5 separate regions of the Homo sapiens genome follow, and all the other regions are reported to be linked to region 1. The links are microRNA targets in miRTarBase. Many come from high-throughput screens and were not tested one by one. Region 1 holds a microRNA gene; each other region holds the end of a gene's coding sequence.
The links. Region 1 holds the annotated microRNA hsa-miR-8079 (CAGUGAUCGUCUCUGCUGGC, at 2,502-2,521, shown strand). A microRNA usually pairs through its seed, bases 2 to 8, with sites in the 3' UTR of a target mRNA and lowers its output. Matches are read on the target gene's strand: a 7mer-m8 pairs with bases 2 to 8, a 7mer-A1 pairs with bases 2 to 7 and ends in A, and an 8mer does both.

Region 2: the mRNA of FOSL1 is a reported target of hsa-miR-8079. Seed matches in the 3' UTR shown: 7mer-m8 at 1,054-1,060.
Region 3: miRTarBase lists METTL14 as a target of hsa-miR-8079. Seed matches in the 3' UTR shown: 7mer-m8 at 1,521-1,527 and 8mer at 769-776.
Region 4: miRTarBase lists RBMXL1 as a target of hsa-miR-8079. Seed matches in the 3' UTR shown: 7mer-m8 at 2,699-2,705.
Region 5: the mRNA of AGO3 is a reported target of hsa-miR-8079. The part of its 3' UTR that is shown has no 7-base or 8-base seed match.

What each region holds. Positions count from the first base shown.
Region 1 is chr13:44,194,571-44,198,691 of GRCh38, reverse strand. It overlaps MIR8079 (microRNA 8079), which reads left to right and starts at 2,492; the gene lies at 2,492-2,563.
Region 2 is chr11:65,889,493-65,893,613 of GRCh38, reverse strand. FOSL1 (FOS like 1, AP-1 transcription factor subunit) reads left to right here. Exons shown (of 4, transcript NM_005438.5): 4 at 318-1,565. The coding sequence ends at 728. CCDC85B (coiled-coil domain containing 85B) reads right to left here and starts at 2,941. Exons shown (of 1, transcript NM_006848.3): 1 at 1,979-2,941. The coding sequence starts at 2,830. The coding sequence ends at 2,222. RefSeq lists enhancers at 1,281-1,440, 1,481-1,530 and a silencer at 2,671-3,150.
Region 3 is chr4:118,709,799-118,713,919 of GRCh38, reverse strand. It overlaps METTL14 (methyltransferase 14, N6-adenosine-methyltransferase non-catalytic subunit), which reads right to left. Exons shown (of 11, transcript NM_020961.4): 11 at 1-3,922. The coding sequence ends at 3,618. Among named protein-coding and RNA genes, the nearest start is that of METTL14, 26 kb to the right of the region's middle.
Region 4 is chr1:88,979,075-88,983,195 of GRCh38, reverse strand. RBMXL1 (RBMX like 1) reads left to right here. Exons shown (of 3, transcript NM_001162536.3): 3 at 1-3,740. The coding sequence ends at 542. The region is part of intron 2 of KYAT3 (kynurenine aminotransferase 3); the gene reads left to right. Among named protein-coding and RNA genes, the nearest start is that of KYAT3, 11 kb to the left of the region's middle.
Region 5 is chr1:36,055,020-36,059,140 of GRCh38, forward strand. It overlaps AGO3 (argonaute RISC catalytic component 3), which reads left to right. Exons shown (of 19, transcript NM_024852.4): 18 at 1-126; 19 at 618-4,121. The coding sequence ends at 726. Among named protein-coding and RNA genes, the nearest start is that of TEKT2, 27 kb to the right of the region's middle.

The sequences.
Region 1 (4,121 bases):
TGTCTAAGATGGTGACAACATGGCCTTCACACACAGAGGAGGCAATTTAACAGTTGGTGTCTATGGCTACTTCAGTGTGTCTCTATAAATAGAGAGCTTTCCAGAAAAACCTTCCTAGTGAATTTTCTTATCAGTCCCTTAAATAGTGTTGACTGAGAGGGAGAAGCAAGGCTATATTAGCTTTTCACCAGTAAGTGAAAGGCATGGCTGATAAATGAGGCAAGGGAGATGTTAGTGAGGTTGAGTAGGTGAACTCTCCACCAGAGAGCAATGAGGGATATTGTTTAAGAGCTGTGGACTCTTTCATCTTGCATGTATATTTTTCCCCAACTAATTATGCACTGGCTTTGGCAAAGAGAATGGATAATTCAGGTAAGACATGTTTGTATTCTGGTTGTCAAGGAGACAGGGAATCCATTTGCTTAGCTTAATGCACAGGTACACTTAGTAAGCACACCCAGCATTTAGATTTCTGGACTTTTACCAAATCTCTACATCTCTGCCCCAAATCTATCTTGAGTTTAGTCATTGTGGCATATTCTCTTCATGTTTCTCTTATCTCTATCACTCCCTCAGCCTATGAAACTGCTGACATAAAATGAAATCCTTTGTGGTGAGAGAGTTTCAGCCAGCAGGAGACTCTGCCCAATGTTGGCAAGCCCCTAGAATGACAGACAGCAAAGAGAACATCTACAGCTCAGCTCCCAGCACCCTTTCCTCAGCCCACAGATCAGCTGGTTCAAAGGACAAGTGACTTACATGGAGTGATGTGGTTGTAAAAGGCTGGAGGGAAAGGGGCTTGGAGCCAGAGGGGAACATGCTGGACTTGAGGGCAAGAAGGCTGAATCATAGATGTTGTTTGGATAAGACAACATTGAGTGTTGTCAAATGCAGGTCAGAAAGTGACAAATGTGGAATTCTGACTAGGAAGGGAGAGAGGATGAGATGTGAGGAAACATGGCAGCAAAGTGTCTTGGATCCAGGTGCTGAGATGACAAGGTTTGCCTGGCAGGATGGTGGGAAAAGTTATGGGACCAGCTAGGTGAGCCTGGCCAGCTGTTCTGTTTCTCCTGGGATCTCTTGTGGAGACTGTTTTGCTTCAGTCAATGGGTAAACTACTACAGAGCCATAACTAGACTCCTTGTGAGTGTTCCCCAGGCCTCATTAGCCTTAGACCCAAGTGAGACGGACGACTGCAGACCAGATTTTGCTTGCCCAGCTGCATGCCCCTGTGGGACTTTGGTCCTCCCTTCACAATACGAGCCCCTCCCCGCCCCAGTATCTCTGAGAGTTCCAAGGCTCTGTCTCCTGTGCTCAGTGGTCAGCTCGGCTGTATAGCCACTGCATCCTAACTTTGTGGTCTGCTCTTTTAAAGGGTCTCACACGAAGTTGCTTGGACTACAGAAGTTTTGTGGATCAGGTTTGAGTTACATGTAATCCTTTCTCTTCAGGACACACTCAGCCATCACCAAAATGGATAGTTAGGAGGAAGCCCAACAAAAGCCACACCTCTCTCTCTCCCATTATCTTCCTTCTCTGGGATCCAACCTCCTTAAGGAGACACACCATTTTCATTTCTTCCAGTTGGCCTTCTTTTGTCTTCTCCTCCCCCATTACAGTTCACCAGTTGAGGAGGCACGTTCAGCAAATATATTGTTGCAGATGAATAAATCAACAAATACAGATATATTCTGAAAATTTGGCATAAATGAGAGGAGCAGATGAAGCGTCAGGCACAGAAAGCCCCCCAGGAGAGGTAAGTCGGGTCAGACGGAGAAGGCTCTGAGGGCTGATGTTATTGGAGATGGGGAAGGTAGATGACCTAGGTGCTTCCATAGCAACCTGGGCTTTCCTCTGAATCACCTGCCATAGTGATGGGACTTTGTTATTGCTCTTTCAGCTGTCTTGCACTAATCTAGGAGCATCAGAGACTGAAGTTTTAATCTCTGTATTCCCAGAACCCAGCTCATTTCCTGATATGGGACAGGTGTTCAAAACACAGAAGAATAGCTCAGGAAAAGATCTGGAGGCAACACAGGCAAATCACAGGCCAGGGGCAGTCAACAACGCTGCTTGGTTTAGAGTGATAGATACATGTAGGGAAATGACAGTTAGCCTTGAGTGCTGAGATTTTACTCAACAATGAGTCAGAAGCCAAAATCAATCCTGGAGTGTGGATCTGACAACAGGGCTTGAGAATTAATTTTTAGGTGTTGTATGTGTTGTGGGGCACAGGGAGGGAGACAGGAAAAAAGAGGCTGTGGGTTGAGGAACCCACCAATGAGGTGCTGCAGGAAGTCAGTGTGAGACAAGGGAGGTCAGGGCTGGAGGGGTACTTAGGGGACTAAAAGGGAGGAGCAGAGGGTAGGGTGAATGAGCAGGAATGAAAGCTGGATTGTATGAAAGACTCAGAGAGTGGGTTTACTCACTTGCTCCTTCACCTTTCATTCATGCATCCACACCTGCCTTCTTCAGCATTGGGCTGTGCAAGTGCCTGGGTTCAGTGATCGTCTCTGCTGGCTGTAGGGCAGCAGTCAGAGGGGACATCACAGGCCTCCAGAGGGTGGCCATGCAGCACAGTGTGGACTCGAGATTCAGTCTGTGCTGGTTAACGTCCTGATTCTGCCTGTGTGGTCCTGGGCAATTTATTTAACTTCTTCAAAGCTCACTCTCCTCATCAGATAATGACCAACTCCATAGGGTTATATGGAGGACTGCCTGAGATAATGCGCTGAGCTAACAAACGCTAGCTATTACACGATAAAGGAATGTTTGTGAAACACCTGCTATGGGTTAGGCACTGTGATAGATGTCAGGATGCCGAGAGAGATAAGACCTCATCTTGTCCTCTAGCACCCCAAAGACAACCTTAGGGGACAGGGAGGGAAATTAGCAAACTACACTGTGTACTGTAATGTGGTAAATAATCTAATAGAAGGATGACATTCGTGCCATGAAATTCAGACAAAGGGATTAATGGGGCTTGGGGAATTCAGGCAGATGCCACAAAAGAAATAGTAATTGAACTGGGCTTTGAAAAGGAGTAGAAATTTGGAAGGTGAGTGGAGGGAGAAATCAAAAAGAATTTCAGATAAAAGGAACATCATGGACAAAAGGAACATCACAGACAAAAGGGACATCATGTACAAAACAGCAAAGGCTAAGGGCCCACCACTCTTGCAGGGTTTTCTTGGGGATGAGAAGAGGCACCACATGCAGGCGGCCGGGCCACAGGTACAGAGGAAGCAGCAACCAACCAGTGAACACTCATTTCCTCCCTCTCTTTGCTGAACTCCACCTATGTCATCTTTAGAAAGCTTATAGCTCAAACCCAGAAAATGAAGAAACATCTCAAAAAAGAGGAGAAAGAAAGCAGGGATCCTGTTCATATCCTTCGCCCACTTTTTGATGGTGGGGTTGTTTGTTTTTTTCTTGTAAATTTGTTTGAGTTCATTGTAGATTCTGGATATTAGCCCTTTGTCAGATGAGTAGGTTGCAAAAATTTTCTCCCATTCTGTAGGTTGCCTGTTCACTCTGATGGTAGTTTCTTTTGCTGTGCAGAAGCTCTTTAGTTTAATCAGATCCCATTTGTCAATTTTGGCTTTTGTTGCCATTGCTTTTGGTGTTTTAGACATGAAGTCCTTGCCCATGCCTATATGAACAGACACTTCTCAAAAGAAGATATTCATGCAGCCAAAAAGCACATGAAAAAATGTTCATCATCACTGGCCATCAGAGAAATGCAAATCAAAATCGCAGTGAGATACCATCTCACACCAGTTAGAATGGCGATCATTAAAAAGTCAGGAAACAACGGGTGCTGGAGAGGATGTGGAAAAATAGGAACACTTTTACACTGTTGGTGGGACTGTAAGCTAGTTCAACCATTGTGGAAGTCGGTGTGGCGATTCCTCAGGGATGTAGAACTAGAAATACCATTTGACCCAGCCATCCCATTACTGGGTATATACCCAAAGGATTATAAATTATGCTGCTATAAGGACACATGCACACATATATTTATTGCGGCACTATTCACAATAGCAAAGACTTGGAACCAACCCAAATGTCCAACAACAATAGACTGGATTAAGAAAATGTGGCAGATATACACCATGGTA
Region 2 (4,121 bases), not on the chromosome of region 1:
TCGCCAAGTTAGCCAGGCTGGTCTCAAACTCCTGGTCTCAAGTGATCCGCCCGCCTCAGCCTCCCAAAGTGCTGGGATTACAGGCCGGAGTCACTGCCTGGTGCCAGCAATCTCCTAAAACGTCTGGGCCTGATGGGAGTTGTGCCCATTTTCTCCCAGGGGCTTATGGGAGTTGTAGTCCAGACTTGCTGGGGACTCTCCACTGCCCCCCCTCTCCCCCCGCCCAACCCCAGCTCCTCAGAACCCTGAGTCCAAACGTCTGCGGCTCTGGGGTATTCAGCCCTCACCTTTCTGACTCCTCTCCTGATCTTCTACAGGAGACTGACAAACTGGAAGATGAGAAATCTGGGCTGCAGCGAGAGATTGAGGAGCTGCAGAAGCAGAAGGAGCGCCTAGAGCTGGTGCTGGAAGCCCACCGACCCATCTGCAAAATCCCGGAAGGAGCCAAGGAGGGGGACACAGGCAGTACCAGTGGCACCAGCAGCCCACCAGCCCCCTGCCGCCCTGTACCTTGTATCTCCCTTTCCCCAGGGCCTGTGCTTGAACCTGAGGCACTGCACACCCCCACACTCATGACCACACCCTCCCTAACTCCTTTCACCCCCAGCCTGGTCTTCACCTACCCCAGCACTCCTGAGCCTTGTGCCTCAGCTCATCGCAAGAGTAGCAGCAGCAGCGGAGACCCATCCTCTGACCCCCTTGGCTCTCCAACCCTCCTCGCTTTGTGAGGCGCCTGAGCCCTACTCCCTGCAGATGCCACCCTAGCCAATGTCTCCTCCCCTTCCCCCACCGGTCCAGCTGGCCTGGACAGTATCCCACATCCAACTCCAGCAACTTCTTCTCCATCCCTCTAATGAGACTGACCATATTGTGCTTCACAGTAGAGCCAGCTTGGGGCCACCAAAGCTGCCCACTGTTTCTCTTGAGCTGGCCTCTCTAGCACAATTTGCACTAAATCAGAGACAAAATATTTCCCATTTGTGCCAGAGGAATCCTGGCAGCCCAGAGACTTTGTAGATCCTTAGAGGTCCTCTGGAGCCCTAACCCCTTCCAGATCACTGCCACACTCTCCATCACCCTCTTCCTGTGATCCACCCAACCCTATCTCCTGACAGAAGGTGCCACTTTACCCACCTAGAACACTAACTCACCAGCCCCACTGCCAGCAGCAGCAGGTGATTGGACCAGGCCATTCTGCCGCCCCCTCCTGAACCGCACAGCTCAGGAGGCGCCCTTGGCTTCTGTGATGAGCTGATCTGCGGATCTCAGCTTTGAGAAGCCTTCAGCTCCAGGGAATCCAAGCCTCCACAGCGAGGGCAGCTGCTATTTATTTTCCTAAAGAGAGTATTTTTATACAAACCTACCAAAATGGAATAAAAGGCTTGAAGCTGTGGCCTGAGTGCCTCACTGGACCCAGAGGCCAATGGGAGAGTATTTGGAGCCCTAGGTCCCAGCCTTAGCTCTACAGACTCACTGCATGACCTTGGACAAATTCTTTGATATTTTTGGACTTTGTCTTATCTGACAAGTGGGGCTACATCCGCTCGGCCTCATCTCCGGGACTGAGGGGAGACAGTCCTCTGGGGTAAAAGCGAAGAGGCTTACCGCCCCTCTCCCCGTGGGGGCCCACAGTGCTGCTGCGTGTGCCACGGAGGGGCGCTGTTATGCCCCCTTCCAGCCTCAGAGGAGGCGGCCGAGTGGTTCTAGGCCCCCAGCACCTGCTTCCTGCCCCATTGTCTTGGACAGGAAGGAGCCGGGAAGGGAGCTGGAGCCACTTCAGGGGCTGGATTAAGGCCGGTCCCGGCGCCCGATGGGGGAAGTCTGGTTTACCACTGCCCCGCATCCCACCCCAGGCTCGAAGTAATGGGGGAATCATTAGTTCTGCAGTCCTTCTGGATGGGAATTGTACCCTGTATCAGCACCCCACCCTCGCCCCAACCCCGGCGAGTACCAAACAGACGCTGCCCAGGCCGTGGGCTCCGCTTCCGTCCGGGTTTATTACCCCCAATCCAACCCCCAGCAAGTCCCTCCGCTCCAGCCTTCAGTCCCCCTGCTGCCCTGCCAGCAAGAGCGAGGGGCCCTTCTTGGTGTCAGGATTTCTTAGTCCATGCCAGCGGCCCCTCCTGCGCAGCCAGGACGGCGTCCAGGTCCCGAGGTCCACAGCGGTCCCGGGGCTCGGGGAGCAATCCGGGCGGGCGTCGGCGTGGAGGAAGCAGTGCCTTCAATCATCGGGGGAACAGGCCAGGGGCAACTGATCCGGACTGCCCACGCTGCCAGTGCTGGAGCTTCCATCGCCTAGGTCGCGGGGCCCGCACGGGGGCAAGGCAAGCTCGGGTGCTGGCCCGGCTCCTGATCCCCCGGCGCCGCTGGGGCCGCCGCGGGGGCCCCATTCTTCGCCCAGCGCCAGGCAGAGCTCCTTAAGCGCTAGGTTCTCCCGCAGCAGCTCCTCCTGGCGGCCCTCCAGCTCGGCCAGCTTCTGCCAACAGCCGCCCAGGTCCTCGCGCACGGCCCGGGATGCTTGGGTCCCGAAGAGCTGCCACTGGCGTGCGGCGCGCCGCCCGCGCTGGCGCTCCGAGTCCAGGAAGCAGCAGAGGTCGCGCAGCTCACGGTTCTCTGCCTGCAGACGCCGGTTGAGCTGCTTGAGCTCGCGGATCTCGCCCAGGTGGCCCTGCAGCTGCCGATTCACCTCCTGCATGAGGCGGCCGCGCTGCACCAGTGCCGCCAGGCGCGCCGCCTCCTCCCGCCGCAGGCGCCGCACTAGCTCTTCCTTGCCTAGCGCCGCCATCTCCTCGTCCGTCAGCTCCTCCAGGCCGCCTGCCTCGGCCTCCATGGCTGGTCAGGCCTCTGGAGCATCGCCCGCCCGCCGCCGCGGCCCAGGAGCCCCACGTCGGGCCCGGCGCCACTCAGGCTCGGGCTCCGGCTCCGCACGCGGCAGGCAGTGGCCGAGGCAGCGTAGGCTGCAGCAGCTACCCGGGCTGGGCACGCGGCGGGGCGCGCGCCGGGGCGGGGCCGCATGTCGTTATGGAAGGACAGCCAATCCGGTGAAACGTCCCCGGAAAGGGGCGGGGCCTGAGCTCAGGGGCCGCCCCCCTCGTTCCCCACCCACTCCGGGTGTTACTGATCCTCGATGTCAAGGAACCCGCGCGTCATCGCCCTCCACATCGGTCTCAACCCGAAACTAGGAGCTTCGAACCTCCAAGTACCGGATCGCCCCAAGCTTGAGCCTAGGCCTCTCGGCTCTTCTGAGAAACAAGATTCAGGCGTCCGCCCCTGACTCCTGCCCATCCCCCACAGAAGTCAGATGGACCGCTCTCCAGTCCCTCTTTACCTTTGATCAAATTCGGAAGTCTCGGCCCACTAAGGATCGCTCCTGGTTCCTCGGAACCCTGAGTCCAAACGTCCTAGCTCACCAATAGACTACCCTCCCTCCCAGGGAGCGTTTCCTGCCTGGGGGGAGGAACATACAGGATTCGTTTGTTCAATAAACGTTTTTTATGTGCAAGGCCCATGCAGAAATAAATTTAACCAAAATACCGATTCCATCCTCAAGGAGGTCGCAGTCTGTCCGGGAAGTCAAGCTGTGTTAAGCAAGAAATAAATCCGGGAGGAGTATGGTCTGAGGGTCCTTAAGAGGGTTCCCAAAAGAGATGCTATCCAAGAGGCTCTGGTAGATCCATAGGACTTTGCCAAGTAAAGAGCTATTTCAGGGAGAGAGAATAACATAGTGAAAGACACTGGTGCCCGAAAGAGCCTAGCTGCTTTAGGAACAATGAGGATAGCTTGGTTTTTGAAAAGCAGATGTGTCGAGAAAATGCTAAGAGAGAGAGAGCGAGGCTTCAAAGGTAGGTAAAAGCCAGATTCTTAAGAACTTCCAGTACCAGGTTGGAGCATTTCCAAAGGCCACTAAGGATGTTAAGCAAGAGAGTAACATTTGTAAGGATGTTAAGCAAGGGAGTAACATTTTAAAATATGCCTTTAACTGGCCAAGATGGTGAAACCCCGTTTCTACTAAAAATACAAAAATTAGCCGGGCGTGGTGGGAGGAGCCTGTAATCTCAGCTACTCGGGAGGCTGAGGCAGAGAACTGCTTGAACCCGGGAGGCGGAGGTTGCAGTGAGCCG
Region 3 (4,121 bases), not on the chromosome of region 1:
TAGATTGAATGAGGTAGTTTTTCTCTGTGCATTACAGCTAGCAATATTTATACGAGTAAATGATAGAGTTATTGAGAGCAGAAGCAATGTGGTATTTCCAGAAATGAAGTCTTCAATGGAGTCAGTTTACTGGATAAATGTTCTAATCTTTTGAGAAGTCCTAGATTTATGGCCTCAAAACTAACTATATATACACAAGAAAAGTTCAGCCTCTATTACCCAACATCAAAGAGAGGATAATGCTAGTCACACATGAACCCTAAGATTACAGGATTGTTCTAAGAAAGACCTTCTGCATAAGCAAAGGTTTATGTTTCTAATAGATCACAAAATATGAGACACTTTCAGATCAAAGACTACTGTTTAGACTAAGTCCCAACAGGGCTTTCATTTTGTCATGTTAATAAGGATTATATTAAACAAATTAGTAAAGTCTGAAACTATACTTCAAAGGCTAAATCTTATGTTCTAAATTCAGGATGAAAACAGTACAGGTTTTAAATTAAGCGCTGTAACTAACTGAAAGATAATTTAGCAATTAAGATGGGTAGAAAGTATTTTAAAAGACATGAAAAGGAGTAACTCCTAGTAGCAGCTGTGACACCCTGATGCACAATATAGCTCCCAAGTATCCCATCTTTATACTCCATTAACTTAAATGAAACTATAGCATATCACTGACCTGGCCTCAGAATAAGGGAGATAGGAAATAAGGGCTCATAAAGTGGCTCTACTACTTACCAGAGTAACAGAGCAGAACTGCTGCAGTAGTGATCCCTCTCAACTCTGGATCTGTGAGTTGGTTGCCATGCCACACTCCTGCTTGATTCTCACTTCCCAGGTTGACACCTTGACCTCTCACACTGTGCTGTTTCATGATGACCGTATTACATTCTGACTGCCATCATCACAATTCTGTGGTCTAATCTGATTCATTTGTGTTTAGGTATGGTATTCCACACCATAAAATCTGTTCTCCTGACATCATCAACTACCTGCCCTCTTCTTTCTCCACAGTGAAGAAGAGTAAAAAAGTATTCCTACTCAATCAGTACTTTGGGCCTCCTAATCCCCATCCTCTGAAAGGAGGAAGGTCAGTGGGAAAATGGTTCTCACTGGAAATAAATAACAACAGTTGGTTTGGAATACCATGAATTATAATTCTGTAAAAACTCAGACATGCTGATCTTCTAACTTCTAAACTAGGTTATTTCACAATAATTAGCTTCTATCCCCAGTAAGGAATTAGTGCATAAAGCAACTAAAAATTTATTTCTATACAATTTTTTTTTTTTTTTTTGAGACAGAGTCTCACTCTGTCGCCCAGGCTGGAGTGCAGTGGCACAATCTCGGCTCACTGCAACCTCCGCCTCCTGGGTTCAGGCAATTCTCCTGCCACAGCCTCCCGAGTAGCGGGGATTACAGGCGTGCACATGCCACCACGCCCAGCTAATTTTGTATTTTTAGTAGAGATGGGATTTCTCCATATTGGTCAGGCTGGTCTCAAACTCCTGACCTCAAGTGATCCACCCACATCGGCCTCACAAAGTGCTGGGATTACAGGCATGAGCCACCATGCCCAGCATTTCTAAATAATTTTGTGGAATGTAAGACATGTAAATATAAAGAAGACCAAAAATTAGAAGAGGTCAGAGTAATGAAATTTCATTGGAAACCTTTCCTCAATGAATACACAGTCATTGCAAAAACAACACCTCAACCTTTACTGAAAGTGAAAGTTAGCAAAAACTAGTGAATCAATTCCATCCTGCTATTAAAAAGGCCAGATTCATTGTCAAAGGGATAAATTCTGGGTCTTACATTCTTTTTCCACCATCTGCTCTTTTTTAAATAACTTTTTCCTAAATATGGTAGATCATGGCTCCCCTTAACTTTCAACCGACAAAGCAGCCATACCTACCTCTTTCTAAGATGAAATTGTGACACTGATCTCACAGGTGCCTATGCCATGTAAACAGCAGGAATGTCACCTTGGGTAGGCCCAGGGTATGGAACGTAATAGAGAGCCCTGTGTATAGGACAGGGTCACTCCTTAGCTGATACTTCTAAGGACCCATCACAGGCAAGTGGAATTTCTCTATCCTGACTTCATTCCCAGGTCAATGCTGACATATAGAGTTCTAAATCTAGATAATTTGTAATTAGTGAAGTTGAAAATATACCATAATTTCAGCAAAAAAAAAGGGGTCTTGTACTAGATAGTACTAATGGGTTAAGCGAGTTAAATTAATTAGGCTTTTAAGGATCTCAGCCTTATTTCTTCTATCACTCATTCCTTATCTTCAAACTGAGTCTTTGGTGGATGTAATATAATCTCATCTTAGGTATATATGAGCACAGAACGGCCATTAAAATCCATCACAGACCAAAAGAAGAGACTGATTTTAGGTCAGTCCTTTTTCATTTTGTAACAACAGTAATTCTACTTATAGAAAACAGACTCTCAAATCTCAAAAGTTTAAAGTTTCATTAGAAAAATCATAAAAATAAGAAAAGTATTCATCAAGAATGATAATAGTATAATTTCATTATCAAATTCATTTAAAACATGAATTACAGTACAGCAAGAGAAGTGACAGCATAAAGTCTTATATAATTTTAAAAACAAACATCACACCATATGGTTTTAATAAAAGGCAATTGCAGTTCCAATTTCCAAGCTGTATCCTTAAGTTGAGGGTTTTCCGTAGTTGGTTTTACATTAAACTATCTCCATAACAAGTTTAAAGGTGTATGTCATTTCATCACCAAGTATTTTAGTCCCAAAATGTATAAACCAAGCATCTGATAATGAGGTATCTTGTCGCTGCCTCTCTTTTATTTGAGGAATATAAAATTTAAGGTCAATCCAAGTTCAAGTCCACACCACAGTGCTATCTAGCACATGAATATTTGTCCTCCTTTGCTTCTTAGGAAGCGTGATTAGGAGTCATAGCCACAAAATTGAGATTATGATGATAAACTTTTTTTTTTTTTTTAAGTCTGCCTGCTAAGTTCTATCTCTTCTTTCACCCACCCCTGGAATCTCCACCTCCCCTATCAAATTTAGATTTGGGAAGAGTTTTTGTTCAAAGTCTCTTAATTTCTTCAGTATTCAAATTATATCTGAGTTTATTTAAAACTTAAAAAAAAAGAAGAAAAAAGCTTACCTCTTTTTATTGTTTCATCAAGAAAATGTTAAAACCCTGACAAAAGCTTACCATCTTTTCCAACTCTATTCTATCAAGGCCCTGTCAGCACTAGCATGATACCACAGACTGGATCTTTTTCCATTATTTATTCCCAAAAATTAGCAAAATCCTTTGTAATTAGCTGAAGTCTATCAGAATAAATTCAGTCTCTGAAGATGAAGCTACTTGAGTTGTTCCATTCTGTTCACGCACATAACAAAAGGCAGAATCATTCATTTATCCTGAAAAAAACCAGACAGTGTGTGTGACAACTGCAAGCAAGGCTCGCTAAGACATTCTTGCAGCTCAGAGAAATTAAAGCAAAGTGCAAGCTGGAAGTGAGTTCTAAAGTTAAGTCTCCCACTTGAAATTTAATTACAATAAAGAAGGTTAGAGGAGGATGAATAGGTTCAATGTCTTCAACAATTATCGAGGTGGAAAGCCACCTCTGTGTGCTCCTCCACGGCCCCCTCTAAAGCCACCTCTTTCTCCTCGGAAGTTAGATCTATTTCTTTCTCGTCCACGGCCAGCAGAAGTTCCACCTCTTCCTCCACCTCTGGGAGCTCCACCTCCTCGGTCAGATTTAGATTTGGGAGGAGGCGATTTTGGTCGAAGTCTCTCAATTTCTTCTGTACAACCAGTCAAGTAGGAATTAGGAGCACTGAAATAGGATGCATATGTTTCTGCATTGTAGTTGCTATTTGTAAGCGTTGGTCCAACTGTGAGCCAGCCTGAAATGGAGGAAAAAAAGATTATACTTTTTATTTGCAATTCTCTCTTATTAATTCTTTAGAAGCTAGTTCAAATCCCCAATGCATTCTTAAAGATGTCCCCATCATTCATCCAATACTGATCTCTTTTACAGAATGGCACTTAATTGTGGTCATGTTTTAAAGATTTCACAGGTATATATCTTGTTTCTCCTCCTAG
Region 4 (4,121 bases), not on the chromosome of region 1:
ATGATGGGTATTCTACTAAAGACAGCTATTCAAGCAGAGATTACCCAAGTTCTCGTGATACAAGAGATTATGCACCACCACCACGAGATTATACTTACCGTGATTATGGTCATTCCAGTTCACGTGATGACTATCCATCAAGAGGCTATGGCGATAGAGATGGATATGGTCGTGATCGTGACTATTCAGATCATCCAAGTGGAGGTTCCTACAGAGATTCATATGAGAGTTATGGTAACTCACGTAGTGCTCCACTTACACGAGGGCCCCCGCCATCTTATGGTGGAAGCAGTCGCTATGATGATTATAGCAGCTCACGTGATGGATATGGTGGAAGTCGAGACAGTTACTCAAGCAGCCGAAGTGATCTCTACTCAAGTTGTGACAGGGTTGGCAGACAAGAAAGAGGGCTTCCCCCTTCTGTAGAAAGGGGGTACCCTTCTTCACGTGATTCCTACAGCAGTTCAAGCCGCGGAGCACCAAGAGGTGCTGGCCCTGGAGGAAGCCGATCTGATAGAGGGGGAGGCAGAAGCAGATACTAGAAACAAACAAAACTTTGGACCAAAATCCCAGTTCAAAGAAACAAAAAAAAGAGTGGAAACTATTCTATCATAACTACCCAAGGACTACTAAAAGGAAAAATTGTGTTACCTTTTTTAAATTCCCTGTTAAGTCCCTTCCGTAATTTTTATGTTCTTGTGAGGAAAAAAGTAAAACATGTTTAATTTTATTTGACTTTATGACATTGCTTTTCAACAAGCAAATGTTAAATGTGTTAAGCCTTGTAGTACTAGTGTTGTAACTTTCCAAGTAAAGGTGTCCCTAAAGACCACTTCCTATCTGGTTTTTCCCAGTAAATGAGGCAAGCAATTCTAAGATCTTCCACAAAACATCTAGCCAACTAAAATGGAGAGATGAATCATTCTGCCTATACAAACAAGCTAGCTATTAGAGGGTGGTTGGAGTATGCTACTCATAAGATTTCAGGGTGTTTTCTAACTGAAATCTCACTGTTCTCAGTATGCAAAACCTGAAATCAGATGCCTATGTAAGGAAAGTGCTATTCACCCAGTAAACCCAAAAAAAGCAAATGGATAATGCTGGCCATTTTGCCTTTCTGACATTTCCTTGGGAATCTGCAAGAACCTCCCCTTTCCCCTCCCACAATAAGACCATTTAAGTGTGTGCTAAACAACTACGGAATACTAAATAAAAAGTTTGGCCAAAACCAACCATGAAGCTGCAAAGGTGCTTGCTCTTACTCTTTCAAATTTTTGCAACTCTAATGTCTCACTTTTAAAGGAACAGCTTGATTGCAAAGGAGAAAATAGATAAGCAATGAATTTATCTCCAACTTCCTAAAGGCTTATGACTTCTAAAAAGTGAATCTATCAGCATTCCACATCAGATTTAAAGCATCAAATGCCTGTGAAACAGCAAAGATGGTTGAAGATTGTGCTCATTATGTTTGTGGAGTGCTGATTGATTCACAGTAGATAACGCTGGCAGTAAGAGAAATCAAATGCTAAGAGTTGTTGAAGCAGAAGGCGGCTGATTGTTGGTAAGTCAGTGCAGTTGCATAAGCAGTGCTGTCAGAATTGGTTTGGTGCAGGCAATAGATTTTGCCTTCAAGGGTTCCTGTGGATCTCAGGAAGGCATCAGTGTTGATTAACACTCATAACTAGGGAGTGAGTGGTAGTTACTTAAGTAATTGACCAAATGGAAAAGGGGAAGTAATTAAGGAAATTGGTAAGTGGAGGTAGTCAGGAGGTTCTCGTGGTCCTTTACACAGATTTTACAGCTTTGGGTTTCATTTTGTTTAGCTAAAGTCATGGGGACAACTCTTCAATTTAGAACTTAAGATGAATTATAAAAATGATGGATATAAGTGGTAGCTCTATCTGGTGAAGTGTCTTGTCAGTAAGTGAAACATTTTTTTGTGGTGGCTTATCCACAAACAGTTTAGTTGTAGAATAAAACTTATGAGTGACATCTGGAAAGTAACAACCATGCTAAGATGGCAAACACACTGGAAACAATTGGGCCACTTGGCTTTCTTTTGCTGTATTGTTTTATAAGCCTGCTTTACCTCCCCGTCTTGGAAACAAGTTTTAGTTTATTGCTTTGGAGACTAGAGCCAATAGTGTAATGTTCTCAAAGGAAACAGACTTGAGTTGTTGGATTAGAGGAACTAACTCAACTTCTAATTTTTTTTGTTGTAATTATGGCACTGTCATGTTTTAACATTTGCAACTAGGGATAGTAAGTACAACATTTTTAACTCTCATTTGGCAGACTACTACTAATCACAGACCACAAGGGTAATGACCAAATTTATGTGGTTGTTACACTTCCATAGTTGTCTTAGCCGAATCCTTCCATATTCTTATGATTACTTGGGTTAAAGCTTCTGTGAGGACCTTTTGGCTCTTAAGATATCCTAAATATTTAAAATATTTAGATATCCTAAATATAGGATATAGAGTTTGTACCAAATATGAATGAATATTGTTCAAAGCAAGGAGTATGTTAAAATGACCAGACACCTGTTTGATAAATAGTTTACTGAACTAGCAGACGTGTGGAAAAAGAATCAGATCTTGATTCTTCTGGGTTTATACTGGTTGTAAAACAGAATGATATTAGAAAATGTTTTCCTTGTTTAAGTGGTAGTTGAACATAGAACTTGGGTATTATAGATCACTTTTCACTTTTTGGAATGTTTTGTATTGAAACTTAATACAACTTTAACATGGCAAAAAAAAAAAAAATCCAAAATCTATGAGATAATTTTGTTAAAGTTGGCTTGCTTGGGCGGGTGCTTGGTCCAGAGGGAGAAAAGAAGGCATGATTTCAGAATACTCTGGCAGCTTTTTAAATTCAGCTTTATCAAGTTACAGTAAACTGTATCTGTTTAGAATTACAACTCAATGGTTATTTTGACAGATGTATATGCCATGAAGCCACTGTCACCATCAACATGCAGAACACTTCCATCGCCCCCAAAAGATTCCTCAAGTTCCTTTGCAGTCCATCCCTCACGCTGCTGATTTGTCTTTGTCACCATATATTAGTTTGCTTTGTGGTGGTGTTTAGTATTTTATATAAATGGGATTGTGTAGCATGTACTTTTTTGTTTATGGTTTCTTTCACACACAATGACTTTGAAATTCACCAGGTTGCAGTGTATCAGTAGCTTATTCCTTTTATTGCTGAGTAGTGTCCCATTATGTGAATATGCCATTATTTGTTTTTCTACTCACCTGTTGATGGACCTTGGGATTGTTTCCAGTTTGGGGCTACTGTGAATAAAACTGTTAGGAACATTTGTGTACAAGCCACTGTGTAGACATAGGTTTTCCTTTCTCTTGGGTAAATACCTACCAGTAAAATGGTTGGGTTGCATGGCAGATTTATGTTTAATAAAGTAACTGCCAAACTGTTTGTTTTCCAAAGGGGCTATACCCTTTTATATTCCCACCAGGGTTGTATAGAGTTCCAACTGCCAACACTCAGTTTTCAGCCATTCTGATGGGAATCTAGTGGTATCTCATTGTGGTTTTATTTTCATTTCCCCGGGTGACTAATGCTGGTAAGCATCTTTTAAGGTACTTTTTGGCCAGTTGTATATTTTCTGTGAAGTGGCTGTCAAATCTTTTGCCCACTTTTAATTGGATTGTTTGTCTTATTGAGTTGTAAAAGTTCTTTATATATACTGTATTAAAGTCCTTTGTAAGACACATGTTCGTAAATACTTTTCTTTCATTATATGGCTCAGAATCTGGCAACTTTTTAAGAGATACTTGAGCCCACTGAATGATATATAGATCTTATAGTTTTTTTAAGTCAAGCCTTAATAATAATTAACATTTTTTGAGTGTTCATCTCTCAGTCCCTCTATGGCCATGAAGGTGGGAGATGTGACTCTGTTTAGTCTCAAGTAAAGAAATGCAAACTGAGATAATGGGTACAAATGGAGATGAAGCAAAGCCCTGTGATGTTCAAGTTCCTGGTTTCTGTTACCATTCAGTCTGGCTGGACCTCTGCCTTTCCCATGGTAACATGACCTTTCTAATGAATTCTCCCTTTTCATCTAAACTGTTTCAGATTGAGTTTCTCTC
Region 5 (4,121 bases), not on the chromosome of region 1:
AACTTACCAGCTCTGCCACACTTACGTACGCTGTACACGATCTGTTTCTATACCTGCACCAGCGTATTATGCTCACCTGGTAGCATTTAGAGCCAGATATCATCTTGTGGACAAAGAACATGACAGGTAATATAAAAGCATAACAGGTTCTCACCCAAATCCCAATATTGTCTGCATGGTAGGATTTTCAAGTTCCACAAGCTATTAGCGGAGTCAGTGATCCATGTGAAAAATGATGACAGAACTGACTGCCCAAGGTTTCCTATTGAAATATATTGTCTAGGCTCATTAGTAATAGAATCATGTAGTAACTTAGTTGTTTTACTACATTAATTCAAAGGAGAGATTATTGGTAATAAAGTGATACATTCAGACAGATAGACAAAATGATACGATATCTAGGTTTGCTTCTAATTAATTCTGGGGAGGTGAGAGAAGTAAAACAAAATTGGCCTTGAGTTAATAGTGATTGAAGCTGAGTGATGGACACATAGATTGTTACACCAGTCTCTTATTTGTTAATAATTTTGAAATTTTCTACAACAAATAGTATTTTTCGGAATTATTACATCAGAATAGAAAGTTTGTTTTTGTGTTCATTGCCACTTCTCTTACAGTGCTGAAGGAAGTCACGTTTCAGGACAAAGCAATGGGCGAGATCCACAAGCTCTTGCCAAGGCTGTACAGATTCACCAAGATACCTTACGCACAATGTACTTCGCTTAAATAGTCCAAGTATATTCTCTGAGAGGAAGTACTGAAAGATGAATTGACATACAACGTATGTTTCCAGTGAAGTCAATTGAGTAAGGACACCTCCAGCCATACAGAAACCAACACTGTGTGGGGGCCAAGGTCTGATCCTTATGTTAATACAAGGAAGATTGTTTACTTCATCAAGGAACACAGCATCATTATGCAATATGAAACCAGCCAACTGCTTTTTGTGCGGTCTCCTATAGGAAGTATCGCAATTGTTTTGTTTTCATTTCTTGTAGTCTAACCCTTTTAATGCCTTTACCTCAAGTTGCTTGGCAGCACAACTATCTTTGCAAAAAAAAGTAAAGAAAAAGTAAATGATGGTTTAAAAAATACACACCTTCATGAATAATCAAAGTGATTTTTCAGAATTATGTGTGCAAAAAATTAATGTGCATTCATATATTCTTGTAAAAGGTGTCTGTGTATTTTTAAAATATATACATCCATACTTCATATGCATATATATCTAGATCTGGATTGATAATAGATATATATGTGTCTGTTATATATTTTAGAGTTCATTCCATTGGGGAATTTTCTTTCCCTTTTATTCTACCCCCACTACCGCCTTTATTTCTCTATTTCCCTTGCCTTCATCACCTACATTTTTTTCCCAGTCCTACCAGTGACATTCAAATGTTGATGTATCTGGTTCGTTTGAATATAAAATATGGCAAACTAGAATTCTACTTTTATTTTGCATACCCTACTCCTGACTCCTATCTCATACACAATTCTGAGTTCTCAACTCTTGATATTGCTGTCTTAAGAAACAAAATTTTATATATATATGTATACATACATACACAGACACAGACACACACATATATATACATAAAATAACTTTCTGTGAGAGTGCGTCTCTCCCCTCCCACTCAGAACATACATTTACCATTTGCGCAATTTGTATATAAGCAGTAGCAACCTGAACTATTCTTTTTCTTTTTTCTTTTTCTTTTCTTTCTTTTTTTTTTTTAATGAGACAGAGCCTCGCTCTGTCACCAGGCTGGAGTGCAGTGGCGAGATCTCGGCTCACTGCAACTTCCGCCTCTCGGGTTCAAGCAATTCTCCTGCCTCAGCCTCCCGAGTAGCTGGGTTTACAGGCATGTGCCACCACACCCAGCTAATTTTTGTATTTTTAGTAGAGACGGGGTTTCACCGTGTTGGCCAGGATGGTCTCGATCTCTTGACCTTGTGATCCACCCGCCTCGACCTCCCAAAGTGCTGGGATTACAGGCATGAGCCACCGCACCCGGCCTACTATTCTTTTTCTTTAGTGAGTTTGTTAAAGCTGCTATAAATATAAAACCTGTCAGAAGTTGTAACTTTCTCTCTGGTAAGTGATGTGTATTCTGAAGCCTTCTGTTTCTATGGGTTATACATGGAAATTCTTTAAAGGTTTTATAAAGGGTAAATATTTTAAAAGATTAGAGCTCTGTAGGGTTGAGACCTCTGAAATTGAGTAGAGAGAAGAGTTTGTTGAGGGATTTTTTTGTTTTGTTTTTTGATAGTTTACTTGCTGCCTCTCATACCTTAATGTGATTTTCATATATTTTTTATATATATATATGTATGTGTGTGTATATAAACACATATGTATGTGTTTGGAAGTATAGCTTCCTTTTCTTTTATATTTATTAGAATAGTGCTTTAATAATTATAGAATTGTATTGGCAGCATCTTTTATAGAAATATAATCATGTTTATTTTAAGAACTGACAACTTGTTTTTGCTATCTTTTAGTGCAATAAGCAGTTTTAAAGGAAAGTTGTGTCTGCATCTTTACCATGGATAGTAGGAGGAACAGGCACCTCCATAGTTTAAAAGGGCAAAGAATACAGCCTTAATTTCAGAAGGAAAGTTTTGTAATTTTCAGTTTTAAAGCATATCTTTTAAAATTCATCATGATAAAAGGCTGGACGCGGTGGCTCATGCCTGTAATCCTAGCACTTTGGGAGGCTGAGACAGGTATATCACCGGAGCTCAGGAGTTTGAGACCAGCCTGGCCAACGTGGTGAAACCCCGTCTCTACTAAAAATACAAAAATTAGCTGGGCGTGGTAGTGGGCACCTCTAATCCCAGCTACTCGGGAGGCTGAGGCAGGATTGCTTGAACCTAGGAGGCGGAAGTTACAGTGAGCCAAGACTGCACCATTGCACTCCAGCCTGGGCAACAAAACCAAAACTCCGTCTCAAAAGAAAAAAAAATCATAATGAAAATGAAGTGAAATTGCCTAAATGAGTCCAACTTGAATATTAGAAATAAAGTTGAACTTTTATATAATTGTGAATAGCTTAACATATTTAAATTATTTGCAAATAGATTGTGTTTATTGAAGAATCATATTGGCTAGATGCCCATTTTCATTTACTAAAATGAATCAGGAAAATGCAAGATGATATTTTAAAACTTTTGCTAATGTATCACCAGTATAACTTTCCTTTTAAAATTAAGGTGATAGTAACAAAGGAAGTTAGGACTTTGATCATTTTAAATCAGTTAAATCACTGAAACGTGGGAAATTGTTTTACAAAACTTTTATTGATTACACTTTAAGGTATTAAAAAGTACTATAAAGCTATCAAAACTGAGTTTATCAGTAACATTGGATTCAGGGGAGCTTTGCACTTTGTAACTCATGAAAATTGCATTTTGATTTTTTTTTTTTTTGCACTGGTTCAGAGTATAGATACTACAGATTGTTTCCAGTGGGCATTGTTGTTAGCCTTTCAGAATTCCATCTGCACGTGAAACCTAATGGATTTAGATCTTTAGTTTCTCTCTTACCTGTAATCCACTATTATTGCCAATTCACTGTATTTTGAGCCTAAAATCTGAGCCCATGTCCTCTGACAGGCATGAAATCTTTTGTCCCTCTGCCAGAAAACTAAGAAAGTACTGTATTTTGTATGTTTATTATTTTGAAGTGTCTGAAATGCAATTTACAACACTGTTGCAAAGAACTTTACAAAAGGTAATATTTGTATCGTATATACATTTTTTCTCCCAGCCTTCTCCCATCTCCTCCAGAAAAATTTCCTATAAAGATGGATTTTTTTACACTGAAATTTTACTGAATATAGTCAGGATCATGGGCAAGAGAAGAAAATAGTATACCCAAGATGATAAAAATTTAATTCGTCTATGCTTGATCAGTGTGAGTAAAACATCTTCCTTTATCATGGGAGCTGCACAGATTCATGTGGGAAACTTTAGGGAATGACTGTAGATACCCTTTCTCTATGTACTCTCTCACCTAATTTTCAGTCACTCATATATGCTAGAGTGGAGCCCTTAATTTAAATCTATTTGGAAGGACTTTTTTAAGAGGAAAAATATTTTTTCTAAATTATAAAGCT